3 separate regions of the Homo sapiens genome follow, and regions 2 and 3 are each reported to be linked to region 1. Evidence: microRNA targets listed by miRTarBase, many of them from high-throughput screens and not tested one by one. Region 1 holds a microRNA gene; each other region holds the end of a gene's coding sequence.
What was found. Region 1 holds the annotated microRNA hsa-miR-616-3p (AGUCAUUGGAGGGUUUGAGCAG, at 4,542-4,563, shown strand). A microRNA usually pairs through its seed, bases 2 to 8, with sites in the 3' UTR of a target mRNA and lowers its output. Matches are read on the target gene's strand: a 7mer-m8 pairs with bases 2 to 8, a 7mer-A1 pairs with bases 2 to 7 and ends in A, and an 8mer does both.

Region 2: the mRNA of SERTAD2 is a reported target of hsa-miR-616-3p. Seed matches in the 3' UTR shown: 7mer-A1 at 7,041-7,047 and 7mer-A1 at 3,657-3,663.
Region 3: miRTarBase lists INTS6 as a target of hsa-miR-616-3p. Seed matches in the 3' UTR shown: 7mer-m8 at 4,694-4,700.

What each region holds. Positions count from the first base shown.
Region 1 is chr12:57,514,716-57,523,745 of GRCh38, reverse strand. MIR616 (microRNA 616) reads left to right here and starts at 4,487; the gene lies at 4,487-4,583. It overlaps MARS1 (methionyl-tRNA synthetase 1), which reads right to left. Exons shown (of 21, transcript NM_004990.4): 16 at 8,895-9,026; 17 at 8,688-8,792; 18 at 8,410-8,596; 19 at 7,755-7,826; 20 at 7,409-7,501; 21 at 7,094-7,311. The coding sequence ends at 7,165. DDIT3 (DNA damage inducible transcript 3) reads left to right here and starts at 3,232. Exons shown (of 4, transcript NM_004083.6): 1 at 3,232-3,328; 2 at 5,993-6,040; 3 at 6,308-6,477; 4 at 6,566-7,153. The coding sequence starts at 6,340. The coding sequence ends at 6,937. It overlaps LOC128125814, which reads left to right and starts at 3,266. Exons shown (of 2, transcript NM_001414991.1): 1 at 3,266-3,328; 2 at 5,993-6,034. The coding sequence starts at 3,266. The coding sequence ends at 6,034. It also overlaps MBD6. RefSeq lists silencers at 691-1,090, 2,805-3,264 and enhancers at 1,514-2,474, 2,475-3,434, 2,261-3,460, 3,335-3,464, 3,435-4,396 and 4 more.
Region 2 is chr2:64,628,611-64,638,778 of GRCh38, forward strand. It overlaps SERTAD2 (SERTA domain containing 2), which reads right to left. Exons shown (of 2, transcript NM_014755.3): 2 at 3,011-8,265. The coding sequence starts at 8,261. The coding sequence ends at 7,317. It overlaps SERTAD2-AS1 (SERTAD2 antisense RNA 1), which reads left to right and starts at 8,314. Exons shown (of 2, transcript XR_940172.3): 1 at 8,314-10,168.
Region 3 is chr13:51,357,639-51,367,806 of GRCh38, reverse strand. INTS6 (integrator complex subunit 6) reads left to right here. Exons shown (of 18, transcript NM_012141.3): 17 at 1-2; 18 at 1,962-6,230. The coding sequence ends at 2,055. It overlaps SERPINE3 (serpin family E member 3), which reads right to left. Exons shown (of 10, transcript NM_001386375.1): 8 at 6,443-6,529; 9 at 5,914-5,997; 10 at 3,072-3,568. The coding sequence ends at 3,525. Among named protein-coding and RNA genes, the nearest start is that of MIR5693, 14 kb to the right of the region's middle.

The DNA.
Region 1 (9,030 bases):
GGAGTATGGGCACATTCCCATAATGCTAGGCCACTAGGAAGTTTCCCAGAGTGTCTGGCTCCTGTTGTTCTCTACCCAGGAAGATGATATAAAAAGTACAGATTGCCCCACAGGTCACCAGGCAATTGCCCAACTGCCCGCTGGGGTGGTACCAGCAGAACTCCCCCCATGCCTGCTCCATCAGACAATCGCTGATATAGTTCATTCGGGTCTTAAGAGGTGAGGATCACAGCTCAGTCTTCTCCCAGGATCCTGGGAAGCTCCTGATTTTCCCTCAAGCCTACGGCAAAGGGATTCAGAACCTCCTATTCCACTGGCTTCCGATTATCTCCAAGAGAGCCTGTCCTCCGATAGAAGGGGAAGCCCCTCCAACCTGCAGGTATCCTCCCCAGCCTCACCATTGCTCCCACCCCACACTGGCGGCTTCCAAACTTTCCCTCTCACAACAAGGCGCCCTGTCACCCAGACTGCTTCCCTCAGCTTGAGGAGGAGGGGAAGGCGCACGAAGTAGGAAGGAACTTGGGGAGAGGGCGGGCGGAGGGTGGGCGAAGCACTGAGGGGAGGGCGGTGAGGAAGGCAGAAGTCTGGCAGTGAGAGGGAGAAGCGGCGGGGGCAGGTGAGGGCGGGGGAGTGGGGATGGGGCCGGGGAAAGGGGCCGAGAGGACGCGGAGGGGGCAGAGGGTAGGGACGGGAGGGGGAGGGGCAGGGTGGGGGGGGCCGGGCCCCGCACTCACCGCGGCCCATGGTTCGGCCGGCCCCGCCCTGCGCAGTCGCGGCCCAGAGGGTGAGTGGGAGGGGGTGGGAGGAGGGTCGGTGGAGCCCGAGCCTCCGGTACGGCCCCGGCCGGTCCTAGCAGGAAGCGCCGCTGCCGCCGCCGCGGATCACCGAGCGGCCTCCCGCGCATGCGCCATGGGGGCCAGGGGCAGCCCTGGGGATTCCGTTCCCAGAAGGCACTGCGCAGGCTGCTGCCGCTGCCGCCGCCGCCGTCGCTGCCGCAGCCGCCGCCGCAGGAGCCGCCGCCTCCGCCGCTGCCCGGACGGGAGAGGGGCGGGGCCGGGCCCCCGCCCAGCGGACAGCGACGAGCCAACTGGAGGGGCTGCAGTGCGCATGCGGGAGCGCGCCTACCCCTCCCCCACAACCCCCCATTAATCCCCAAGAGAACAAACACCCCACGCGGCCCCCCCGCCCTCCGCGGAAGGATCTGCGCCTCTTCCCAGGCCACTGGTGGCCAATCCCAGCCCTCCTCAGGGAGGGGCCCCTTCCAAAGCCACAGTCTGTTGCGGGAACCAGGAATGCCAGGTCCGGGAGGGGCCAGGCCCCGAAAGATGAAAGTCGCGACTTGCCCTGCCCCGCCCCAAAGGCTTCCCGGGTAGTGTGCTGGGACTTGACCCGCCTCCCCAGGTCAACATGTCACAACACGACCTCAGCCTGTCAAGTCACATGACCTCTGCCTGTCACTGACAACCTGGTCTGTCTTTAGGCCAGGGGAGACCATCTGGTCCACCCTCCACACTACCCCCATTTTCAGAGAGGAAATGGAGGTGTGGAGCAGCGGAGCAGCCTAACCAAAGACCTGTCATTGCCACACCACTCCAGTCACAACCGGCCTTGTGACAGTTTCTACTTAAACTCTGGCTGCCCCCATGAGGGTATGACAGGATATGTAACAGGCCACCACATGGCCTCTGTTTTCAAGGCACAAGAAAAATACTTTGCATTCTGGGTGGTGCGTTTTACTTTTGGTCAAGTTGCCTCCAAGTTCATGGTTCTCATTTTACCTTCACAACTTTTATCTTTAATTTACAAACAAGGACGGTAAGATCCCTTGGCAAGTGATGGGGAGTTGAGTCTAAAATCGCGGCTCCGGTCTCCCCAGTCCAGGGCAGTCCTGCGCTGAAGTGCACTCACACGTCCCGGGATGAGACTCCGCTGTAAATCTCGACCCGAACACCTAGGAGGCAGGCCTGTGCCGCGCTCCTCACACAGGGAGTCACAGGACTTGCTGTCTGGTACAGCAAGAGAGGGTCTTGGAGAAAGCCATAGGAGTACCGTGGGGGAAAATAGGTGGCCAAACAGAATCGGGTCCACTGGGCAAAATACATGACTTCTGGCAGGCTGAGGGCTTACCAACTACAAGGTAAAAGTCAAGGGCGCTGTTCTGAGAGAAGCGGAAAATGACTACCAAGGGATTCCAGTACCTCGGCCCCTTTTGGGAGATTTACGGGGCTAGAACAGGAGACCACCCCCGTTTTTTTGTTTGTTTGTTTTGTTTTTTGTTTTTGGTGAAACGTAGTCTCGCTCTGTCACCCAGGCTGGAGTGCAGTGGCGCGATCTCGGTCACTGCAACATCCGCCTCCAGGGTTCAAGCGATTCTTCTGCCTCTGCCTCCAGAGTAGCTGGGATTACAGGCGCGCATCACCACACCCGGCTAATTTTTGTATTTTTAGTAGAGACGGGGTTTCACCATGTTGGTCAGGCTGATCTCGAACTCCTGACCTCAAGTGATCCGCTCTCCTCAGCCTCCCAAAGTGCTGGGATTACAGGCGTAAGCCACTGAGCCCGGCCAGGAGACCTCTTTAAGAAGACTCGAGATGTCGACAATCCCAGTGGATGGATACCAACTTTAAAAAGAAAAGTTCAAAAGGCCTATGTGCCCATTAGCTGGGAGGGGCCAAGAAATATGGGAGTCCCTTATAGTGGGGGTAAAACGGCGGGTAAAGCTAGGTGGGCGGAACAGCAGCTTCTGGGGGAGACAAGCGGCAAAGAGGCTCACGACCGACTAGGGGCGACCAAGGCTGATAGCCGTTGGGGCCGTTGGGCGCCGGGAGCTGGCGCCCCGCCCTCTCTCCTCTCCCCCACCCTCCGCACCTCCCACCACCCTCGGTGTCCCCTGCGCGTGCGCGTGCAGACACCGGTTGCCAAACATTGCATCATCCCCGCCCCCCTTTCCTCCCCTCCCCCCCCGCTACACTCCCCTCCGCGCGCGCGCATGACTCACCCACCTCCTCCGTGAAGCCTCGTGACCCAAAGCCACTTCCGGGTCCGACACTACGTCGACCCCCTAGCGAGAGGGAGCGACGGGGGCGGTGCCGCGGGGCTCCTGAGTGGCGGATGCGAGGGACGGGGCGGGGCCAATGCCGGCGTGCCACTTTCTGATTGGTAGGTTTTGGGGTCCCGCCCCTGAGAGGAGGGCAAGGCCATGGTAAAAGATTACAGCCAGGCGCTCCCGAGGTCAGAGACTTAAGTCTAAGGCACTGAGCGTATCATGTTAAAGATGAGCGGGTGGCAGCGACAGAGCCAAAATCAGAGCTGGAACCTGAGGAGAGAGGCGAGTACTGATTCCCATCTACCTTTTACCCTCCCGTCTCCTCAAAGTTGGGGCGTCCGCTCTTTAGGATCGGCCTCACTCCTCCACAGTGAAGTTAGGGACCGTCCGAGAGAGGAATGGGGAGAGTCCCTTATTCTGGGGTGGTGCTTACAAACCCCTATTGCTTCGGACGACGGCGTCTCTCCACCCCTGCCCGGAGCCGGAACACGGGCCCTGCTCTGTGCTGCTGGGCAAAGGGACCTCGGTTGCCCTTGGGAAATTCATTCTTTCCCGTAGCCAACTTCAGGCCTCATCGTTAGGCCTGTCCGCGGGGAGGCAGGTCAGCAGGACACACCCCCGCTCTAAGACTGGGTGACCATCGCTCAGGCCGTTTCCGCCGCTTCGCCACCAGCGGGCCTTCTCCCTACCCCACCCCCAATTCTGTCTCAGTCTCAGTGCCTCTGGTGTCAGCATGGCCACCTTGGTAGCTGGGGCTACTGGACCCTGCAGCGGATAGGGGAACCTTGAGGAGACACAAGCCTTTGGGAGGGGTGCCGATGGACAGGGAGTGGTGTGTTTTCCTTTTGCCGTAGAGGTCTCTGGGCCTCCTGCACAAGAGAGCAGCCTGGATCTCTTAAGTGTAGGAGGCCATTTGGGGTCTCCCCAGGGTATTGTCCTTCCCTCGGGATTAGTCCCTGCCTCTTTAACCCGGTCCTGTCTCCCAGCTAATCTCTGTGTAACCATTGCATCAGGCCAGCCCCGTTTGGCTCTGCAGCCTTCTGACCTGAGGCTCTACTGCTGATGAAAGCCAAGTCCCACACACTGGAAGGCAAGGGAGGGTTCCCCAGGGAGGACAGCCCTGCAGAGAAATACTTCGGGCAATATTGCATCTCTAGCCCCTAGGGATCAGCAGCTGCCACTCTGCTTCTGCCCCTTCCCTATAAGAGAGACTGGGGGGAGTTTATCCATTCATTCTTAACAAATACTTAATGAGGACCTACTGTGTGCCACACAGTTTGGGGCTCAGGGTACATCCTTGAGCAAGAGGAAAAAATCATCTCAGTGGGAGGCCTACAGTAAACAAAATATAAGTGCCACGGAGAAAGCTAAAGCAGAGAAAGGAATGGAGAATGTTCAGGATGGAGGTCAGAGTGTTACATCAGGTGGTCAGGAATTACCTTAGGTAATTCCTCCACTCAAAACCCTTCAGTGACTTCCATGACATGAAATAGGAAGTCATTGGAGGGTTTGAGCAGAGGAATGACCTGTTTTAAAAGGCTCACTCAGGCTGCTGTATGGTGAATAGAGTTGCGGAGGGGTGGCAAGAGAAGAAATGGGAAGACCTTCTGCAGTCAGAAAGTTTCTGCAGTAATTTAGAGATGGTAGTGAATTGATCTAGATTGGAAACAATGGAATTAGAAGTGTTTAGATTCTTCTAAGCAAAGGTTTTAAAAACTCATTTTTAAAGAATGAGTTAAGGGCCGGGCATGGTGGCTCACACCTGTAATCCCAGCACTTTGGGAGACCAGAGGTGGGTGGATCACCTGAGGTCAGGAGTTCAAGACCAGCCTGGCCAACATGGTGAAATCCCATCTTTACTAAAAATACAAAAATTAGCCGGGCATGGCAGTGCATGCCTGTAATCCCAGCTACTCCGGAGGCTGAAGCAGGAGAATCGCTTGAACCCAGCAGGCGGAGGTTGCAGTGAGCCGATTGCGCCACTGCCTTCCAGCCTGGGCAAAAAGAGTGAGACCCGTCTCAGAAAAAAAGGAATGAGTTAAAATTTGCTAGTACTTTGGATTGCAGGGTGTGAGAGAAGAGGAATGAAGGATGATACCAAGGTTTTTAGCTTAAGCAACTAGAGTTGTCATCTGAGATGGGGATGACCTTGGAAGGGGAAAATCAGCAAGAGTTTGCCTTTGCACATAGTCTTAGGTGCCTATTAGACATTGAAAAAGAAATGGCAAGTAGGCAGTAGACAGCAGAGTCTGAAGTTCTGGAAGAGGTCCAGACTGGAAATGTACATTTGGAGGATGTCAGCCCTGTGGGAATGGAGTTAGGAAAATGCTATGATTTGTTCCCTTCCCTGTAGTTTAGTTTTTACCCTGGCAGATTTGAGGCCTGCTTTGGATTTAGAGAAAGCTGAGTTGGCCAGGACTTTACTATTATGTAACCAGGACTACAAATGTCAGCAACTAAAAATAAAGAAAGTCAGGCCCTCTTCTGCCCTTCGAAATGGCTACAGGGACCAAGTATGCATACCCCACAAGACCAGAAGTAAGGAAGGACCAGTAGGAGGCTGGAGGTAAAAGAAAAATAAGGGCCCAGCACGGTAGCTCATGCCTATAATCCCAGCACTTTGGGAAGCGATGGATCACAAGGTTAAGAGATGGAGACCATCCTGGCCAACATAGTGAAACCCTATCTCTGCTAAAAACACAAAAATTAGCTGGGCGTGGTGGCACGCGCCTGTAGTCCCAGCTACTCGGGAGGCCGAGGCAGAAGAATCACTTGAACCGAGGAGGCAGAGGTTGCAGTGAGCCGAGATCGCACCACTGCACTTCAGCCTGGCAACAGAGCAAGACTTGGTCTCAAAAAAAAAAAAAGAAAGAAAAAAAGAAAAAGAAAAGTAAGTTGCCTCTCCCCCTTCCAAAAATGGCTGACATTTCTCTTTGTTGCCCACAGTGTTCAAGAAGGAAGTGTATCTTCATACATCACCACACCTGAAAGCAGGTAAACTTAACCTACCCTTTTCCAAAAATTTTAAACGGCAGGACAGTAAATATTTTAGATGTTAAAAGTCCTATAGTCTCTAGCGTGACTCTTCATCTCTGCCACTGTAGCACCAAAGCAGCCATAAACAATATGTAAATAAACAGATGTGGCTGTATTCCAGTACAACTTTACCTACAAAAACAGGCATCAGACCAGCTTGCCAACTTGTGGCATAGACTGTTTGCTACATGGAGCTTGTTCCAGCCACTCCCCATTATCCTGCAGATGTGCTTTTCCAGACTGATCCAACTGCAGAGATGGCAGCTGAGTCATTGCCTTTCTCCTTCGGGACACTGTCCAGCTGGGAGCTGGAAGCCTGGTATGAGGACCTGCAAGAGGTCCTGTCTTCAGATGAAAATGGGGGTACCTATGTTTCACCTCCTGGAAATGAAGAGGTAAGAATGTTAGCCCTAAAGCTAAAGGGGGATGTTACCTTTCCCTTCTCAACTAATATCTATGTTCCCTTTCCTCATTTCCTTGAAGGAAGAATCAAAAATCTTCACCACTCTTGACCCTGCTTCTCTGGCTTGGCTGACTGAGGAGGAGCCAGAACCAGCAGAGGTCACAAGCACCTCCCAGAGCCCTCACTCTCCAGATTCCAGTCAGAGCTCCCTGGCTCAGGAGGAAGAGGAGGAAGACCAAGGGAGAACCAGGAAACGGAAACAGAGTGGTCATTCCCCAGCCCGGGCTGGAAAGCAGCGCATGAAGGAGAAAGAACAGGAGAATGAAAGGAAAGTGGCACAGCTAGCTGAAGAGAATGAACGGCTCAAGCAGGAAATCGAGCGCCTGACCAGGGAAGTAGAGGCGACTCGCCGAGCTCTGATTGACCGAATGGTGAATCTGCACCAAGCATGAACAATTGGGAGCATCAGTCCCCCACTTGGGCCACACTACCCACCTTTCCCAGAAGTGGCTACTGACTACCCTCTCACTAGTGCCAATGATGTGACCCTCAATCCCACATACGCAGGGGGAAGGCTTGGAGTAGACAAAAGGAAAGGTCTCAGCTTGTATATAGAGATTGTACATTTATTTATTACTGTCCCTATCTATTAAAGTGACTTTCTATGAGCCAAGGTCTTTTACTTTTTCTTCTTGCCTTTAGGGGCTTCAGGGGGTTTCCCCTCAGCTACAGCCAACTGTTTCTTTAGATCCAAGAGTTTCGCCACCTCCGCAGCAACCTCGTTCTTGTCTGCCTTTTGTGCTTTCAGTTCTCGGACAATGTTTCCCTAAGATAAAGGGGGGTGGGGAGGTAACAGTGAGGCAAGAAAAAGATCTATTTAGGATTCAGCTTGTCCAGTCTCCCACAGGGCTTAAGCTTCATACTTGTTTTGTCACTTCATCCATCAGCGCTTGTATCTGCTGTGGCTTGGCTGTTGTAACAGTCTCTACAACTGCTGGCTTCGGGGACGTTTTTGCCTGGAGAACAACAAAGTTATCACCAGCAACCATAAATATCCCCTAACCTCCAGTTTTATACAGCATCTCAGAGGGAAAGTGGTTACCTTTAAGTCGAAGGTCTCTTCTAGTTAAGACAGGAAAGAAAAACTGTAAGTGAGGAAGCGGCAGGGCCAAAAGATGGAAAGAGTGATGGGTGAGGACTACTTAGGGAAATTAGGGAAGTGATGCTGTGGCTGTTGTGGAGCGAGGGCACAGCCTTTAGCTTTCTCACCTGGCCCCCTCCAAAGCGCTGCCTTAAACTTTCAATCTGGTCATTTTCCAATTTTTGGAACAAGGGACTGACCTGTAAAAAAAGAGTTCCAGAATCATCTACTGATTGGATACAGACTCTACCATAGACTATACAGATGACCTCTCCAACCCCAATCTCTGATGTGTTTTAGAAAGAACGAGCTTAACACTGAGCTAATATCTGCTGATTTTAGGAAATTAGCTGTAGCTTTCCCTGTGAAACCCCAAATAATTTGTAGGGTCAAAGATTCTTTAAGCTCTCTAAGGATGCTAGGCTGATCCAGAAGTTTAGCAATGTACTTACTTTTTCATTTTGTGTCAAAGAGGAAATGGCTTTCCTGTATTTTCCCTGCCCACTATCTGCTAGCATTATGGAGACTAGGTGATCACAGTGTTTCTTCAAATATCTGTTTACCAGTTAGTTTTGTGTGCCAGGTTCTGGTTTCTGGCATGAAGAACAATGAAGATGTACAGATAATTCCGGACTTGTGAACGACTACCAAGGACTTTATATCAGAAACTTAGGAGTCCCATGACCAAAGTAACACTGGAGAGATGTTAGGTCTTCTCTCACCCACTCCAAAAGCTGCATGGCAAGAGTATCAATTTTAAGAGAGGCTGGCTCTTCCACCTACTGTGCCAATCTGGTGTCCTGCTGGTAAGGTACACAGGAAGTTTGTCAGCAGGATACTGCAGGCTGGAGGTGGGAGCTGCAGCTGGGCCTGGATTGTGGCACTAACCGTGGGCATGTAAGGCTGAAGCATGACAGAGAGCAAGGCAGCTATATTCACTGCCAAGCCAGTCACTGTTCCTGCCCGTTGCCTGAGGAAGAGGAGACATTAGTCAAGACCTCCAGGAGGATACAGCTTACAAGCCACTTTATGCCTTTAGCCAACCCTCCCCGCTTACCTACCTGTCAGCCTCACTGCCTTTAATCCGCTTCCAGGGCTCATTCACCTGAATATATTGGTTGCCATGTCGAGATATGGTGAGGATACTGCGCAAGGCATCCCGGATCCTGGGAAGGGAGGAAGCAGGCCAAGGTGTAATGTCCTACAGAGACCAATACAAGGAGGCTCTCAACATGCCAGCAGAAAAGACAGAGGTGTCAGTTACTTACCGAACCTTCTCAAGTAGCTGGTGATAGTGCTGGAGCTCCAGGGTGACATGGGCCAGCAGGCGCTGATCATCAGGGGTGAGCACCATCTCAGGCACATAGCCCCCAAAGAACTTAGACACAAACATCCCAGCTCTTG
Region 2 (10,168 bases), not on the chromosome of region 1:
CTTAACCTAAAACACCGCGCTGAGAGTGGAGAGCTGGATTTTAGCCTTGTCTGCCATCATGTTAGCTGTACTGACATTTGTGGACTTTCCAGTGCCCTAGAAATGCTCGAGCGTGCTTCACATTGACTCATTTGATCCCCACCATGCCCTGAGACAAGCTCAATTATTTCCCCCGTTTTATAGCTAAGAAAGCTGAGGCACAGAGAGGCTCAGGAACTTGCCCAAGATTGTAGGTGCCAGGATTCAAGCTTGGGAGATCTGGTAGCAGAGCCAAACTGAACTCTGATGCTATAAACTATTTTGCCCCAGACAATAATCCTTTTCCCTCTCTGGGCCTCAGTTTGCACATCTGTCAAAAAGGCCCCTTTGGTGGGAAGATCTAGCTCTATGGCCCCTCCCAAGTCTTAAGCTCTCTGAATATGTCCACTCTTGTGTAACTTTCCAGACTACTCTGCCCCGTCTGGCCCTCGAAACCCCACCTCCAGCATTCTGCACCCTTAGGACTCCCCTGACGCCTGTACCGTATTCATCTTTCCAGGGGTGTGTGTCCCCAGTCTATGTAGCCCTGAGCCTATCCCATCTATGGTCAGACGCTGTTCTCAGTATTGGGAGAGTTGCAAAGATCAGGATTTGGCAAACTTTTTCTGTAAAGGGCCAAATAGCAAATAGTTCAGACTTTGAGGGCCATGTGGTCTTTTTGCAACTACTCAACTCTGCCATCGTAGTAAGACAGCAGACAGGGCAACACACAGATACACGAGCGTGGCCAGGTTCCAGCAATGCTTTTCTTACAAAAGCAGGCAGTGGACAGGATCTGGCCTGTAAGCTGCAGTTTGCCAACCTCTGTCAAAGATAAACAACACAGGGTTGCTGCTCTTAAGGATACAGGGAGTACAGAGACAACAAACTGCACAGCTAATCCGAAGACGCGGCAGGACTTGCTAAGTGCATTTGCGGAGGCATGGAGCTCTGGGAAAGCCCAGAAGAGGAAAAGGCTGGTTTTGACTCCAGGCATGCAGAGGTTTCATGGACAGGCATTTGAGTTTGGCCTTGGAATGATGGGCAGAATTTCCACAAGCAGAAGGGGCAGGTGCAAGCAAGGACACGTGGAGGCAGGCTGCTGGTGCGTGCTGGCAAAGCAGCACATCCTGAGGGCGAGTGTGGTGTGAACCCAGGACCCAGACAAGAAAGATGTTGAGTGCTGGGCTTCTCTCATTCTATAAAGAAAGATGAACTACAAGATTGTTTTTTCTTCTTTTCATTCAACAAACATTTTGAGTGCCTACCATATGCTGGGCACAGCTCTAGGCATGAGGACAGATACGACATTCATAATTTGCATTTTCATTGTACTGTCAACATTTTCAAAGAGCTCTGGGAGCCACGCTTTATCTCATCCTCATAAATACAGAGATTGAATGATTTGCCAAAGTTTTATCATTAATTAATAGCAGAAGCTCCTAATTCCAGATACAAACCACTCTACTGAACAACGGACCCTCCGTCCTAGTTGCCTGGTGCTTATCTCCGCCGGGTGTCTGGAAAGTGCTCGCCCTGTTCTTCTACCCCTGCATCAGTGTGCTAGGGCTGCTGAAACAAAGTGTCCCAGACTGGGTGGCTGGAACAACAGAAATTTATTTTTCTAGAGCTAGAAGTCCAGGATTGAGGTGCTAGCAGGCTTGGTTGCTTTGAGGGCCGTAAGAAAGTGTCTGTCCCATGCCTCTCTCCTGCCTTCTGGTGGTTTGCTGGTATCTTTGGCACTCCTTGGTTTGTAGATCCACCGCCCCAGTCTCTGCCTTCACTGTCACATGGCCTTCTCCATGTATGCATGTATGTGTTCAAATATCTTTTTATAAGGACATTAGCCACTGAATTAGGGCCCACACTAATAACCTCATTTTAACCTAATTACCTCTATAAAGACCCCACTTCCAAATTAAAGTCACATTCTGAGGTACTGAAACCTACCTTTTTGGGGGAAACAATTCAGCCCCTAACACCTCCCCAGCACTTCACACCCCACCTCACATTCCACTGCTGATTGAGCTGAACCTTCACTTCCCAGGTCTCACACATCCATCCCTTTTCCCTTGCCAGTGGTGTGGTGGCCCAACCACACCAAAATAAAAAACTGCCTAGGCCAGGTGAGGCCAGATCCCATGACTCCATCCAAGACAGCCCAGTGGCCAAGGAGGTTGCACAGGGTCTCCCCCACTCCCCACTGGAAGACAGCAGGGGCAGGGTCCAGATGGTATAATCAGTGGGTACACCTGGAGGACGTGCAACAACCACGTGACCCACTGGCATTTTAGAATGTCAACTCCAGCATCAGGGATGGTAGAGAGACGATCACAGCAGGAAGACTAGTCAGGAAACAGGTACGGCGGTCAGAGGCAAGGAGAGAGAAAGGGTCCGAGCTGGGGACGCTATGGTGAGGATGGAGAGGTGGTGGCAGAGGGAATGACATGGCTGGGACTGCGGAACAGGGTGCAAGGGTGGGCAACTGAGCCAAGCGTGGAGCAGAGTGCTGAAGACAACGAGCCCACAGAAGAATCAGCCCCCAGGGGAAACGAGAGCTCTTTAGACGCGCTGAGAGTGAGGGAGCAAATCTTGGTAGATACTGAAGTCTGGAGCTCAGGAGAGAGGCAGGGGCTGGAGACCAGTTTTGAGAGTCCTGAGTGGATTAGATCACCTTGGGAAAGCAAGAGGCAGCAGGAATGGAGGCTCAGTGAAGTGCAGTCATGGGCCAAACCCTGGAAAAGACAATGTTTTAAAGAGAGCTGGGGCACAGATGTGAGAAAAAGGAGGTCCAGAAGGGTCCAAGAAGCAGGAGGAGAACCAGGAGAGAAGGGTGGTTCCTGAGACCAGGACGGTTCAGGAAGACCAACAGCACGCACTCCTTCGGGGCCCCCCTGCTGCTCTCTCTTGCTGGACTTTGCTTAATGTGAGCAAACTGTCACAAATAAGCTGATTGAGCTCCCATCAAAAGAAAACTGCAAGCATGCCTCTCTCATCTTTTAACTGTTTATTGTATAATATAAAACTACAAAAGTAAGACTGCTCATTTCCATGTACATTTAATCTGTCCAATTGTTTAGATTACAGCCCAAACCTACATGTGAATACAGCCATCTGGGTTCCGATGTAACGTCTGTAATATTGCATAGAAAAGGCACAGCTCTCAGGTCTGTGGGGGAAAGGTTATACCTCCTTTTTGACAAAAGCCCTCCTCAAAAACCATGCACCAAACATGTCACTATGTACATCTTTTTTCAAAATCTCGGTCATGCGCACATATGGCCTGCATTTCTCTTCCAAAACTTGTTATCCCCAAAAGAAGTCCAACTTTTTATTGGCTTTGTCTGCAATAGCATTTGATCCTGGCTAATTTTCAAGAACCATTCAGACTCATTCTTAGAAACACTGAAAACAATTGTACATAAGCAGGATGCACACAACTCCATGCCTCCAGGTGCGGGGCAGTTACAGGAAGGTAACCATTTACAGCCAGAAAAGGTTAAATATACTCTTTTCATTGTTTTCAGAAAATGTATAAAGGTCCAATTTGTAACAGCAAGGTTTTCAAATTAAGACAATTCGTATAGAGTAGCAATTGCTGCACGAAGTAGAGTCTTTTTTTTTTTTTTTTTTACATTTGTCATTTAAGAAGGCTGCCCTGCGGTATTCATAATTCATTGTTTACCACAAAGGTGGTTCATAAATTTAAGCTTTAAAAACGATCTGTAAGTTGATACTTTGGCTCTTTGGAGCTTATTTCATTAAGAAATTTTCCTTGATTGACCTCAGGGCAGCTGGGGCACTCCAAGGGGCTATGGCGATAAAAAGCTCAATTGGTAAAGACACTCGAGAGGTGCAGAGGAGGCTCTGGCCACTGCTCACCCTTTGGTATGAACAAGGGTGCCCATGTGGTTGCTCCTTCTGTCATCCAGAGAAAGTGCTACTAAAAAAACTTTAAAAAATATCAACCCTTTGATGCTTTTCTTAAAAATTTGGAGGTATTAAAACATTCCTCATACCTTTTGCATATTTCAAATAGACCCATATTAGAGAAGAGTAAAAATGAATGCGGACTGTGCATACAATGAGAAGACCTGGGGGCCTGGCTTGGACCCCCTTTTAATACAGATTTACATTCCTACAAGAGAATACATTCCTACCATACATTCTGCACATGTTACGATCCAGATGTTAGCGCTCCACAGTAAAATAAATATATTTACACAGAAAAAAGGAATAAATAACTTATGGGGGGAAAAAAACTCACTTCAAATTCAAAGCTCTTACGATTCTGCTCTCATCTTGTCACTTCATTGCACATCAGTGTCAATAACTGTCCTCTCCCAGCCCCAGCTCGGTTTTCTCGTAAAGGCACCTCAAGCTGCCTGCCTGGCCCTGGATGCCATGTGATGTCTTTCATAAAGGGAAGGCACTGCTGGAAGCACATCCCACACTCAAACTGGGACTTGGAGATCCCACTCCAGCTCCTACTGTTCCCTGTTGGGACATCACTTTGTAAGAATAGGATGCAAAAGCAATTAGAACCCTAGATCATTTTGATCTTTCTGAAAATGGGCTGCTAATTTTCCATGTCTTTCTTGTTAGACTTTGAGTATCAGGGATTTATGGCAACGGTGTCAGAGTTAAAAAGCATTTGCCTGCTGTTTTTGGGGTTTTTGTTTTGATTTTGAAGCCCAGCCTTACAAATACATAAGAGTCAGAGAACCAAGTTTGGGCAACACTTCTCCGTGCTTATTTGAACTGTTGCCCAACATATGGGATTTGTTTAAACACATGATTTGCTAATCCAACAAAAGTACAGTTGTTGTAAGTTACTGTAAATCAGTTTTTAACAATGGCAAACCAACTGTTTTACCCTGTTATTGTTCAGAATCATCAATACTATTGTATATGTGTACGTAGGTAGATGTGTGCAGCATGCGGCAGGTTTGCCAGGTCCTCCAGTTATAGAAAGCATGGAATCTGGGCAGACTTGTTCTCTGCAAGAAAGGGAAGCTCTTAAAATTAACAGGCATACTGACACTGGAAGCATCTACTACAACCCTCACCTCAGTTACATGGTCCCTGGTCCTATTAAAGGAAATGACACACCTGTAGCAGTACGAGGTGTCTGCGTGGAGGTTGCTTGTAGGAGAACAAGTGCAATTTGATCAGTTTCTCACTGCTCTACTGAGCTGATAATTAGCCTTTAAAACACATTCAAGTGGGGGGAAAAAGTAAATTAGAATGTAGAAAGCCTTTATCATATCATACTCAAATCTTTTGCTTAGATGAGCAGTTCCTTCATCACAAACGTCTTTGCTTTGCCATGTGCATTACAAAAATAAAACTAACTATGGCTTGCTTAAAGTGCCATTTTATAAAGTTGTCTTTTTTAATTAGCCAGAAAGACCCAATTTTATCCATGGCAAGAAGTGAGCAGAATTGGTGACTGAATATTGACAAATGACCAACAACAAAGACAACAACAACAACAAAACATCCCATAATTTAAAAATTTTTAAATAAATATAAAAGTTATTCCTAAAGAAGCCATCTGCATAACAATATAGGTTGTAACCTGCACTCAACAGCTAAAGTACCATTGGAAGAAAAGAAAAAACTGAAACAAGAAGGCCATAAACAGTTTCGGCAACAAGCATGATACATTGCAACCTTTTTAAAATTAAATGTACACCACTAGGAATAAAAAGCTACTTCTCAAGTGTGTCCTGGGAGATAAGGTGATGGGGGGGGGAATTGGGGGGAGGAGGGAAAACATGCATAGAAAGTCCTGTCTGAGTTTTGGGGTAAAACAGCCTTGACAAGTGTGAAGTAGCTGACTCAGGAAAGCAACCAGATGGGAAGCTGTGACGTAATGTGATGAACTCCAGGTTCAAGAGTCACACATGTTGTAAGAGTGCATCCCGGGCCGGCCGAGGCGAGCCAAGCTCACTGTGGTGATCACGAAGATGCCATTTTCAGCTCTTAGCAACACAGGGAAAGCTCTAGGGAAAGGAAGCTGCAGAAGACAATTAAGCAACATGATGGATGCCTTCTGGGGAGATTTTCTTCTTTAAGGGCCCTAAGCATTGCAACAGGGCTGAGTTCCATGAAGAAGTTGGTTGCTTTTCGGATGTAAAATTTTGTTCGGATGTAAAATTTCAGGTCATCATAAAAATTATGCCAAAAAGGAAAGATCTGGGTTTTCATTAAAAAACAAAATAAAAACAATTAAAAGCGCAAACTTGGCATAAATACACTCTTAAGAAAGACAGTAGCTTTACCCTCAAAAGAGGGAGCAAAAGAGAACCATCACTTAAACCCCCAGCTCCACAGCCATCTCCCGCCAACTGCTTAATGCAAGTTTGATGAGCACATGTGGCTCTGGCTTTGGAAGTCACAGTACTGGCGGGTGTTGGTGCCAGGGGGTCAGTGCTTGTGAAATTTGGGTGTGATATCACCTGGCCCTTTCTTAAAGCACTGTGTGTGTGTTTATGGGTGTGTGCATGTGTGTGCCTGTGTTTGCATTTGGGGACATCAACTGCAGATTGATTTGATCCAATTTTCTCTTGCACCATACACATATAAAACATTACAACTCTATAAAAGTACAAGTGCAACTTGTACATCTGAAGTTTGCAGGAACTATGTGAGCAAATCCTATCAAAATAGCTATCTCATATGTATAAACAGCATTTGTTTTTAGAAAAACAATATCATAAACTGCAGAATCTGTACAAAAATATAAAATAAATTTGGGCAGCAGTTTTCTAAACAGCCATGTAAATGCAACACTTACGAGGAGTAGTTAATGCCTCTAAAAAGGCCGAATTGCCAAGTCAACCTATACAGGGCAAAAATGCCAGAAAAGGTACTGAGATTATCTAAATAAGATATATATATATAGTTTTCTTCTTTACCTCTTGCAATAAAACTTATAGAAAAAATAGACAAATATGCACATGCAATTTACAGCTTTTCCAACTTAATCCTTGTGCTTCACTTGAACTGTTTATTTTTGTCATTCAACATTGCAACATTGTCTTCAAATGGATTCTTTCCTATACCAGGGTAGTAGGTCTCTGAGGAACCACTCAAAAAAGTGTATTAAAAGTGGTCATACTTGGATGAAGGCACTCCAACTCTGCTCAAAGCAAAAACTAGTGTGATCCTGTTGTAAAATTTTCTTTTTCTCTGAAAAAGGCAAGCAAGGGTGCATGCACAGTGTGGAGAACTGTCAGGGTTATGGGAACGCTCTGGGGTCTGGGTGGGCATAGTCGCTGGGTCCCTGGGTCTTAGGACCCAACAAGCACCTCCATGATGTGGTCCAGCTCTGTGAGGTCCATTTTGAAAGGCTGACTTGGGGTGACAGGCTGACTGCTGTAAGGAGCCAGAGTTTTGAGGAGGTCGTCGGCAGACACAGGGGCCATTTTTGAGGCTGTCCCTGATGAGGAAGTGCAGGGGTCAAAATCATACATGGACGTATCAATGTCAGCAAACAGGATGTCATCCAGGGTCAAGTCTGTCAGGAAACCCGTGGACGTCGTTATTTCAAAATTCCCAGGCAGAGAGTCCATCAGTTTTGAGTCATCTGCGCGGCTCTCTTGAGGACCGTCGAGTTTCTGGGTGCCAGCCTCGCTGGAGGTCCCTTTCACACTGTCAGTCGCAGCCGTGGCCGCCTCTGTGGAGGTAGATGTGGGACAGAGCTCCTCGATCTCGTCCAAGGCAGAGGAGAAACTGTCCTTTTCTGGCAAGAGGGCTGGAGGTGACAGTTTGGTGGGAGCCGTGGGCTGCATGGCCTGGGAGGTGCAAAACGTGTCATCGTCGTCCTCGAGCAGTGAGGCCGGGGTGAGGCAGGCCTCCAGGGGCGTAGTGCTTCCGAGGTCGCAGGGGTGGGAGGACGGGGACGCCAGGTGGCTGAAGGCCGGCGGGGCCTCTCGGTAGCTGTCGCTGGGCTCGGTGGTGGGCTGGGAGGAGGGGGTGAACATGGGCCTCAGGCTGCCTTCCTGTTTGAGTTCCTCCTGGATCCGCCTCAACATGTTGTTAATTAAAACGGTCTTTTGCAAGCTGGGCTCTGTCAGGGGCCTGTGGTTATAGAGTTTCATAAGGGAAATGTTGAAGATAGTCTGGCGCTGTAAGGTGTAAGACACCTTGGATGGACCGTCACAGGGAGACACGATTTTGCCTTCCAGCCCATCTTCATGCTCATCAAACTTCCGTTTTCCTCCTTTACCCAACATATATCTGCAGAGGGGAGAGAGAGGAAATGGCATTAATCACATGAAAGCTGATTTCTCCCATAAAAAAAGAGACTGATTTAGAGGGCAGGACTTGGACCTCAGTTTCCTGCCCAGGGTTATTTACAAGTACACGTGGATTAATTAGGGGTGGGAGGAAGGAAGACCTTTTACAATAAGAGAGAGTTAGAAAATCCACCTTTGTATGCCTGTGGAGCAATTTTTATCACTAGGTAGTCTGGTGAGTGTATTTCTTGAGAAATGTGTACGACACAGACAAGTTAAGAATTACCATGGAAACCATGATTTTGACTTTCTCAGCTCATGTGCTTGTGTTCGCATGCCTAAGATTATCATGCAGGTTCGATTTCCCTCCCCCACGTAGATTTATTTTTAAAGCCCAAGAAAACACTTACAATGCTATGACCTAAACAGATACAGGTGTCATAGATTACAGCTTGAGCACTTCTTAAAGGATTAAAAGAACCAAGTTAAAGAAAGGTAACATGTATAATTTGGGTAGAACTGTGTGTGCTTTCAAAATGCTTTTCCTTCCTCATTAAGCACGGAGTCTTTCTGCCTGGTTGGGGACATGTGGTGAAGCACTGCACCTGTGTTAAATGACCACAGTGACTGAGCCGCCGCCACTTTTCATTTAGAATCAAGGGGAGGAATGCGTATGTCCCAGCCTAAGTTCTTCCTTGGCTCAACTTCATCCACACACAGTTATGTTTGAAGACAACTGGATTAATTTTGAAGTAATTAGCTCTGATTATAAGCATTGCTGTTTGGGTACTCGAGACATTTCCTAACAAACTACCTCCTGTGATTCCAGAGATACATGCATATTTTGAGGAAACCATGACCTCATATCTCAGACCCTGAGAATCTGGTAATGGGTTGAATTTTAAAACTGCAGCCAGGAACTCCTGCCCCATCTTGCCTGCTGCTCACAGGCCAGGCTGTGTCCTCTCTTGCTCTGGCCTTAGTGAATACATTTTATCAACTGGTTGTCACCTTCTGGGGAGTGGGCCTTCCAACTTTCCAAGATCATGTGACATCGTCACAACCTCCTTTCAGAACTTCTACTGTCTAAACAGAACAATCTCAAGTTCATTAGCCTTTGCCTCAAAGATCTCACTTTCTAACCATTTAACAAGAAACCTGTCTTTTGGTGTTCGGACCAGGATCGTGGTTCGAATGAAGCCAGGCCCATGCTTGCTCCCTCACCGTCCCCGCCTCCAGCTACAGCACTCTCAGGGACTCCTGCTAATCCTGTCCTCAGTGTGACTCACTCTCATGTCTTCATATACAGGCAACTGCTTTGTAGTTATTCAATTTCTCTTCTAAATGCCACTTACCTTTTAATGAACTGCTTCAGCTGATTGATCACACCTCATTCAATCCTTTAATAACTTATCCACATCTACACTGTCATAGGCATTTGGCCAGGCCCAGTGGGGAGTCCCACATGAACACCCTGGCCTTCAAGAGGCTAAATAGCCCCTCCTACACCTGATCACCATTTTGAATTTCAAGTCTCGACCTAAAGAAATAAGGCTAAATGGAATATAAACTTCACAGAACTTCTTTCTCATACTTTGTCACAAAGCAGGCCATGCTGCCCTCAAGGCCAGTATACAGGTAGACATGGAGCCTGCCACTTGGGGTAACCGTCTTACCTCATGTCTCATGAGGTCTCCAGAAGAGACAGATGAACAAGCTGCGACCTATCAACATCAGAATCGGCTTGAGATTTGTTAATACTTATGAAGAATGTGGAGTTACTTGCATGAAACATTTCCCCTCATTTTGTTAACATTTAAAAAATGGCTGTCAATGTCAATCACAATGACCAGTCCAGTAATTAATTGTTCTTCAGGGCAATAAAGGTTATGATAGTAACAGTT
Region 3 (10,168 bases), not on the chromosome of region 1:
AGGTAAATAAACTATTGCATATAATGAAATGGTGATGAAATGAGTCCACAGTTTATATAGGCAGTATTTTAATAGTATCCGTTTTGCACTTGTATTGTTTATAAATGTATATGGCATACCAACATATAAATAAATTCTTATTCTTTTTTAGTTTATTGAAAGAAATTCACTTAGAAAACAGCCACACATACATTCTTCAGGAATTATGGACCTTTTCTCCCTACAAATTACTGGATACTTGGAGAATTCTTGTTATTCTTCTCTGTAGCTTTTTGATATCTTTACATTAATATTTTATAACCTTTAATTTTTCTCCTTTATACATTAATATTGGTGACTAAAAATAACGTACTTGAGTGTCATTTATTTTTACATGGGAAAACGTAATTAAGGAGACAAGAATTGGACAAATGGGCCTTATTCTGATTGTTTCAGTAGCCCAGGATCATTAGTACATTGGCCCTCTGTATCCCTGGGTTCCACATTCATTGGATTCAAGCAACCACAGATTGAAAGTATTTGGAGGCGGGGAAATGGATGGTTGTATCTGTATTGAATATGTACAGGCTTTTTTTTTCTTGTCATTTTCTAAATAATTCAGTCTAATTCATATCGTATTTACACTGTATTAGTATTATAAATAATGTAGAGATTATTTAGAGCATATGGGAGAATGTACATAGGTTACATGCAAATATTGGGCCATTTTATACAAGGGACTTGAGCATTCGTGGATTTTAGTGTTCATAGGGAGGCCTAGAATAAATCCCCCATCCATACCGAGGGATCACTGTGTAAAGAAGGTGGATAAAGGTTATAAATGGTAATTAAGAAGTGCAATTAACTGGAAAACATAGTTGTATGAGTTTAAAAACATTTTTTATTTTCCCTTCAAGATTTTGGGGATTTTAGTATTATAAGAAAACTTGGGGCTTATCACATCCCACCTTCTAAATGTAAACACACTTATACTTTGTCCCCCTGTCTCTTCTATGCTACACATGAAGATTTTAGATAAAGTTGGTTTTGTTTCTGGTTTTCTTTTCTTTTTGTACTTTTGGAGTGGCTAGAGCATAGGCCAGTTTGCAGGATCAAGATAAGGCTATAACTTTTCATGTAATTTTGAGTATTTAACCTATTATGCTCTTTATGGTAACATTCTGTCAGCTAAAACCTCATTAGGAATTTATATCCCCGGTATCTGTACTTCACTTCTGCCACCTTTTAGAGAGTTGTGTAGTATTATGGTGGCTATTTATATTAGCTTCTAAGTAGCAAGGAAGTAGGAATAAAATGTCCAGTGTCTTGGGATATTCTTAAAACCGTCAGCAGTTACGTATACAGATGCAATTTTAGTCTGTCCATATTTGTTACTGAAAATCTTTAAAAGTTGTTACTTGAACTTTAACTGCTTGCTATACTCTGTATTATAGATGTCTATCCTTGATTTGCTAGCTCTCAAATTGTAATAGAATACCATGGTTTTTAAATGCTGCTGACCAATTTTCATTTCTTCTTCCATTTTGTGGGAGATTATATTCATACTTTGTTCACATTCCTTTCAATATTCAGCTTACAAAGAGCATGAGAAGAAGCTATTGAAGTATTTGCTTGGGGAGCCCAAATTTCACTAGAGTGTTTGCAGCCCTTGAATATATTTTGAATATATTAGTTTTTTGTTTTTTTGTTTGTTTTTTCCTTTTTCTTTTCGGTTGTGGAAGGAACAACCTCTTTCCCATTGTTTAGCCCTAGAGTGTTTTAGGGACAAACTATAATACTGTACTAGGATAATAATTTGCTAATCTTTCAACATATTTTATATTGTCGTAGTATTGATTTTTCTATTTTCATTTCACTTTGAAAAATCTTCCCAAAATTTTCTCTCCTTTCTTAAAAAAATTATACTGATATATACTATTCATTAAAAAGTAATTGAGAGTACTATTTATTTTTTCATACAGGTTTAAAAAACGAATGCTAATAGAACAACTGGAGAACTTCTTGGATGAAATTCATCGAAGAGCCAATCAGATCAACCATATTAATAGCAATTAAAAGAAAATAGAATGTGGCCACTTATTTCACTATCTTCTTCAAATACAAAGTAAATACAAGACTGTTGTGATCTTGCATTCATTTTCTGACATGCATTGTTGGCTATTTGAAATACTAAAAGCAAATCTACAGATCCTTTTTCCATCATTTTACAGTGACCTTTTCTTCATTTTGGTTTATTTTTGTAATGTGAAAAGTATCACTCTAAAAAACATTTTTAATTTAACAAACTAAAAATATTCCTCCAAATCTCTTGCTTGTCATTGACTCTTGCGTGTCAATTTCCCTCAGGTTCTATTTTCTTAAACCAACCTTTAAAATTGTCACCTCTGTTAAGGTTGAACTTTGCCAAAAAAAAAAGAAGTTACTTTGTAATTTTTGGGGAAAAAAGCACATACATTAAAACTAGGTAATGTTTTGTATATACAGTTATTTTGGATATATTATTGTAAGTTGTACAAATGTATTTTGAAGAATATTTAAGAAAAGCACTTTTGTTATTCCATCAATAAATGCTCTATTTTACTCTTGTGTGGTTTAGGAAATAATCACATTTAAAGTAATCATTTAAAAACATCCTAAGATAATGGAATTTTAAAGGCCTTGCTTTTTAGCATTGGAAAAATACACCACTTGAAGTTCATGTTTGTTAAGCCTAACTGTAATTACATGTTACATAATCTGCATTGCCTTTTTACTATATGTTCGTAGTTTTTGTTGGCCATGCCAACATACTCCCATTTCTGCCTAGATTATGGGAATGACTTTGTATGGGGCAGATAGACAGATACTTTAAAAGCTATTTAAAAAGCAAACAACTTTGGATATTATTGGTTTCCTTACTTCAACACCTTTTCCTTTATCACTAGGATTGTGGATGGCACGAAGCTGAAGCTGTTAGGGAGTGGTAGGTTTGGAGTACAGTACATGCTCTGAAATATCTAGCCTTTAGCAGCTTCATGCCATGCTTGCAAAAGCCCACAACAAATTGGAGGCCTCCTTGTTCTGCTCTGCTGTTCTCACACTTAAACTCTGTTTTATTTATAAGCTAAATGGAAAGGAAACACCTTTAAGATGACTTTGCTCATTTTGCATCCCCCCTGAGTTTCACAGGATAAGGAAAACCACGCTATTCATTCTCCACCCTCAATTCAACATGGCCTAGAGTATCCGTACTGAGGAAGCAATCTTATGGCCTGACTCACTCACCATTCATGATCACTGCTGTGCCTTTTAGTGGTTTGGGGGGTAAGCAGTAGAAAAGAAGGTCAAAATAGATTTGGATTAAGAGTAGGCAAAATAAACTTATAACATTTAAAAACTGAAGTATTTTTAGGTTTATAATATTGAAAATCACATACCCTTAGCTTTTTACACTTTATCAGACATTTTTTTAAATTTCAAGGGTATAGCAAAATGAAATTATAACTTTATGAAGAAAAGCATTGATGAAAGTGGAGAACATGCATTTAGTCTAGGGGATTTGAAACTCTCCCAATACTGAAGACAAACCCTGTCAAGAAAAAGAAGAATTTAATATTATATAGTATTTTCATATGCAGTTCTTTAAGCTTTGTTTACTTCTATACAAATACTTTTAAGTAATGCAAGATAACATTTAATAGATGGAATTGTTAAGGTAATTGCCTGTAGTCACATTGCTAAATTCATTGAGAGTTACACAAAATCCAGAATATATTGTCTGTTCCTAAATTATATATATTTAGATTCTGGAATTACTAGGAGGAATTAGAAGTCATTCAGATAAAAATTCATACTTAACAAGAGTATCTAGGAAAGAGATTCAGCCCATCCCAATATTGAGCAGCTTTCCTTATCAGAAAGTTTTATTTTCTGTTTCACAGATTGCTCATGACCTTTAATACATTTTTCTGAATGAACCCTGGAGGGAGGTGAGAAGTAGCAGTTTTGTTCATCTCTTCTTTTTGTCCTTTATCTCTCTGCCACTGTTCTCACCTCATCCTAAAACCTGGTCAGGAGGGTTTGAAACCTATCAGAACTAAAGGTTAATATCTCATCTCCCTCAGGCTTTTTTCATTTAAAAAAAAAATGGGTATATTAGTTAAATTAGAATACTTGTTGTAGAATTATTGTCAAAGGGGAAGGGAAATACATCTAGGGGAAACATCATGTCTTTTAGGCCCTTTATGTCACTGAATGACTTAAGGCTCGACAAATGATATTCTTGGAAAGTTTAATCTTGAGGTTTTCAAATCTTTTTTTTTAATGTCTCCCATGTTTCTCATTTGCTGATTGATTCATTAGTTGCTCTTAGTAAGATTTGTCAGTTGGAAATAATGAAGGCTGAGACTCATTTCTAAACTCTTCCATAACCATCACCAGAAGAGCAGCCACTGTGTTGTGTGATGTAGGCTAATGCCTCCCAGATAGAGGTAAAGTCACAAGGACTATTAGAATTCCAGTGGATTGTGGAACTGGTTTTGGATTATCCTTATATTTTCATTCTGATTACTGAGGCAGTTCTGAAAACTCCTACCATTGAAATAGTGGTGTGTCTTTTCCTTGTTTAAGGATTTTACATCATTTTTATGCACTTGAATTCCAAAATCAGAATCTCTCTTTTACCTATCAACCTTTATTGGCTATTGGCTTTTGGCAATGACCTTTCTGTTCAAATGTAGTCCTGTCTCTTTGTTTCCTTAGGGAGTAGAACCTGTCCTTTTTCTCATCTTTCATTTTTTTGACGTGTCCTTTCTAAGAGAAGGCTCTCTGCCGCCTGTTCTGGGTGATAAGTGATATTTTCATCTAATCGTTATGTGGTTGGGATGATCATGGTGAAATACTAGGAAGACATACTCTGTTGATGGACTTTTTCTCTCCAAATAATCCCAAATAGATTATTTTCTAGTGAATGGTTTATATCTTTCTCGTCACAAAAATGTTCCTTTGATTTCTAGCACAAGGTACAGCAGGATGCAAATGATTCTCAGATAAAATGATGTTGACAGTATTTCCTTAACAATTTATGTAAAACTATGCATAATTTTCATTCTAACTTTTGACATTTTTCTCCATAAATAAAAGTAATGCCTGATGTTTAGTTAAAGTAGATCCACCTTTGCTTGATTTTATTAGTCTTGTTCTATCCTATTTCTTTTTAATACACTGTTTAGACTTGCCAACAACTCTTAACTGAGAATCTCTTTTCCTTCCTAGGCTAAGTAATTGTGAGTGGGGGAGGAAGAACATTAAGAGAAATAATCTAAAGACTTTGTTCAATATTGTCGAAGCCTAAGAATATTTGTGTGTCCTTCTGATGTACTGAGGCTTTGCCGGTACCACACCATCTTTGGATTACCATAAGGTTATGTAGTAGGACTTAAAAGTACTAGGGCAAACATTTGATTTTTGAGAAAGATCAACAGAACAGTATAGAAATCCAGGTGCATTCATTAGAATACTAGGATCACAAGAGGACTACTCTGGTGTACTCTAGTGACCTGAAAAAACTCTAAAATGATAAGAAAGCTAGGGGACAAAGGGAAAAAAGGGCAAGATTTATAATTTATTTTACTTTCATGATTTTTCCAAGTGTCTTCAGAAGTAGAAACCTATAGCATTAAAAAAAAAAATCTACATTAACTATATATGAGCTGAGAGAATGAGAAGGTAAAAAACATGGAGGATAAGTTTCCTTTGTACTTACGAAATAGTCCCCTTTCTTAGGATAGAAGATAGCAACTGGGTAGCTTCTGAAGCACCATAAAAACAGCTAGAAAGAATGCTTATTTTTGAGGGGATAGTGGACAAATGAGCCCTTGTTGCTAGAGAGACACTGATAAATTATCTGAATCCTGTCAAAAAATACTGTAATACCTGTGTTAGGTTCTCTCAGGAAATAGATGAATGGCCGATCTGCTTTAAAAATAGGAATCCGAGACCTTTTCAATAACAACAGAGCTGCAGGAAAGAAAGAAAAATTCCATTGCATTTTCTGTGCATTTTTAAGAAAATAACTATTGGTTATGAAGTAAGTTAATTTTTTAAGAAATCAAAGCATCCTAATGGCATTTGATTGTTTACTGTTGTGATGGGGGTGCAGATGGGAAAATTAAAGAGAAAAGATGCCATTTAGCCAATCCTGTCTCCTGTTTTCAACACATTCCATGGAATAAATTCCTTATTGAAGGTAACTTTCAGAATTATTTTTATGGGATGGATATCTCTTCTTCCCCGTCATTTTTCAAAAACTTTTTGTTTTCTTTAGTGTTCCTTTTTAAAAAATACTACACCACACCTGAACTTGGGGGTTATGGAAAGATTCAGAAGTGTGAAGATTCAACTAGGTAAATTTCAGAAAGGTAGATATGGGTAAGCAGTGTGACTGGGTATTCTCTGAACATACCTGTGGCTCCAGATGCCTTGGTGCCTTCCTCCAAAACTTCAATCTTGGCCTTGTGGATTGCTTCAGAAACATAAAAGCCATCTTGGCCTAACCACAGAAAATGATAAAAATGTGAGTTGCTCATTAACATTTTTCTAACACATTTAGAACACATTCTTTAAAAATGTACTTACAAAATTTATAGTATCCAATGCTGCTTACTGTGTAGCTAGGGAAAGAGTGGAAAATTCTGTTTTTGTTTTTACTGGAGGCTCAGGTAGCTGTTTGGAAAATTCTTAAGACTCAATATGTTACCAAACTTTAATTTGTTATATATATTTAATTTGTTAAAATATGTAATCGCTCCCAAAATAATATTCAGAGCACTGCCCCATTTTTTCAGTGGTTCATTTTCAGAAATGATTCTAGTTAAAACTACAATCCCTCCTTCAGCCAGTATTTCCTAAACTTCAGTGATCATAGGGTATGTGTTAAAATGCAGATTCTGTAGCCCGGGAATCATTTTCACCAAGCTTCAGAGATCATTTCCCTTGAATGCCTTTTTGGACTGCACTTTAAGAGCCACTTTTAAATGACAAAGTCACAGGTTTTTATTACAGGCTTTATTGAGGCACAATTCAGAGTAATATGAATGTGTCTAGTGTTGCATGACTGTATTCTGTATACTTAGGTGTATCAGTTATGCAATTAATTTGCCTCATGGGCTAGAATCTACAAAGCAAATGAGAGGTTAGTATAAATGTTCTATGTGCTAACAGTTTCACAGATTATAAGTTTAGCAAATAGGACTAAGTGATAATTTAGAGGAATTGGCTGATTTTTGTAAGCTAATCATTAACCATTTTTAAACAGCTCCAAAGATGAAAGGATACTTGATGACACAGTAAAAAATGAAAGATTTAGAACCAGAAGAAACTTAGGAAATCATTCAGTCCAATCCTTTCATTTTAGAGTGAGCTGTGAACTCACCTGAGATCACACATTTGAAAAGCAGAGTTGAGAATATTCTGATTGAAAGCCCACTCCCATCCCACCCCTCTCCTCCATTCAAACACTGCCGCCTTTCAGAAAGTGTATGCTAGTCAGCTCCAACATGCCACTGGGAGGTATCTGTGGCATGAATGTTAAAATGATCAGTTTGATGAACACATATTGTGTGAGGGAGCTTTGTTTCATCTTAGACTAACGCTTAAATTGGTTTGTGTTTGTCACGCACACACAGGAGATAGCCCATGAATGCCATGAGAGAATAAAACCAGACCAAAATAAAGAATATGCGGCATTCCATCCATCTTGTAAGATGTGCACAGGATGTTGGGAGTTGGCTATATTCACTGTAAGGAACAGTTATTTTCCAGCATCAGTGAAGGGGACAGGAAGGGCCAGAGGAAGTAAAAATCAATAGAAACATTCACTAGTGTCACTTGTCCTAAAATCAGCAAAGAATTTGATTTATTTTAGCAGTTGGTCTTTTTCTCTAGGGTCTTTAAGAAACAAATTTCACTATCAATAATTAGCCCCTCTTACTAGCTAATTAAGCAAACTGAAATGCAGTGCCAAAGTTACAAAGAGCTTTAGGGTTAAAGAATGGTTATTTGACAGTCATGAGAGGCTTTTACTAATCTCCGAGACTTCATGACTATATAGGATGGTGTCTGAACATTTTAAATGAATGTTGGTGAAATAAGCAGAGATTCACTATGAAACCCCTTATCAGCTAAAATACAGTAAATGTGTCTGTATTAGTCTGGGCACCTTGGCAGTGTGAGAAATGAGACCAGTTGATGTGGATGAGTCTGGTTAGATGGGCCAGGCTATTTCAGTATTTTGAAACTGCAACTGAAGAGTTTCATTTAAACAGTTTCTCTCCATCAGACTATAGGAGTGGTCCAATAATTGACATTTATATGTTTGCACAGCCATAAACCAAGGTCCATAGCCTATGTCATGCCCCAGCATCAGCATCTTTTAAATTTTATCTCTGGTAAGAGTTGACATTTCAAAAGACCAACATATGCGATAAAAATGAGAATATGGGAGTCATCTATGGTTTTGCATTTTTCCTCCCACTTGATCTTGTATTACAGATTCCTATTATTTTTTATTGAGTAGCTATTGAAATATTACAGAACTAATGAAATGAACCTAGAAGTCAAGCACAAAGGGATTCTCCTGGTCTTTTTCTACTCCCCTGAAGTGTTGACAGCTGCTTAGTGCCATTGAGGGACATACGCCCTATTTTCCCAAAAGTTGTTCTCAAGATTGTTTATAGGTGGCATTCTGTAAAAGGGTTCCATGATTAATTATATGTGGGAGATGCTAAACAGTTTTGCACTTTTGTTTTCAGTAGGGGACTTCTTAGAGCTGCTAATCTGCTAACTTTTATAGTGAATCTCTACAGGACAATTATAATACATAGCGTTTAACCATAGAACCACCCACACCATTCTCTGTCCCAGATTTACAGGATTAGCATTTTGGGAACATACTTTGGGAAACTGTAGCCCACCATAAACTCGCTTGCTCCTACAATACAACATTCTATATACAAAGCAAAGGGGTGATACTCTTCCTACCCTCCCTCCTGGCATACTCTCCACTCTTCTTCCATAACATCTTCTATGGGTTTTTACCTTCCTTTTTAGACTATTAGCTCCTAGAAGCATAAATGATGTCTTAATCATTTTAAATATTTCTTTGCCCAACTTACATTAAAAATACTTGGTACATTAATGTGTTTAGTAAATGCTGGATGAATTAATAATAGACACCCCTTACCACTATACGAATGGCCTTAATGTTCTTTAACCTTGTTAAACTTGTAAGGAAATGCTGATTGGTGTTTGTAGAACCATAAAGGCGTGGCATAGAATGGGTCATCTGCAAGTCTCAGCCAAATGATTGTTTCAGTGCTTTGTTGGTGGACACCGTTATTCTTTGTGTATGGCTGGTCATACTCAAAAGGTTAAAAGTCTTCAAAACATGACGTTGTATAAACATTGTGTCCCAACATTTCATCCTCAGCTTCTCATAAATCAGGATAAACATATCATTTGCTGTTTCTTTTGTCTTTACAATTATTTGCTGTAGCCAGTGTTAGTGGCTTTTAAAATGTTATTGCCAGAACTTGCTTCTAGTTTATCTTTTTCATCTTGTCACTTAGTTGCTAACACTAAGTGTTAGGGAGAGGGGGCTAGAGAGAGAAACACATAGCACCCGGCCCAGGAGAGGGAGAGAGAGTGCTAAGAAGAATCTGAAATGGCCTTTGAAATTAGGCTATGGTTAGTTGCTTTCTCCATTTGTCTCCTCTAGCCCACTCTGCACCTCTTTCTATTGCAATTCTGACCAGACATCTGGTGTGGCATAAGTTAACTTACATAACTTCCATACTCAACCAAACAACTCTGGTTTGTTCATTTAAGTCATAGTAACAGAGAACTTGTACTTCTTACCGAGCAGAGATTGGAAACTACCTACTTATAAAAGCCAAGAACAAGACAGTTTCTTCAGAGTTTCAAGTTTGTGCACAAGGAGTATTTTGTGGACTAGGAGGCATGGGTCTATATCAAAGCCTGCTGATCCTAAAGCCAGTGGGATTGCTTAAGAAGAGTATCTTTAGCTGGCATCTTCAGTGTGAGTGAAACTGGAATTACTCTTAAAAGCTGCATAACATCTAGTATCAAGGAGACTGGGGGGGAACTACACTCTGGTTTCAGCTGGGCCTTG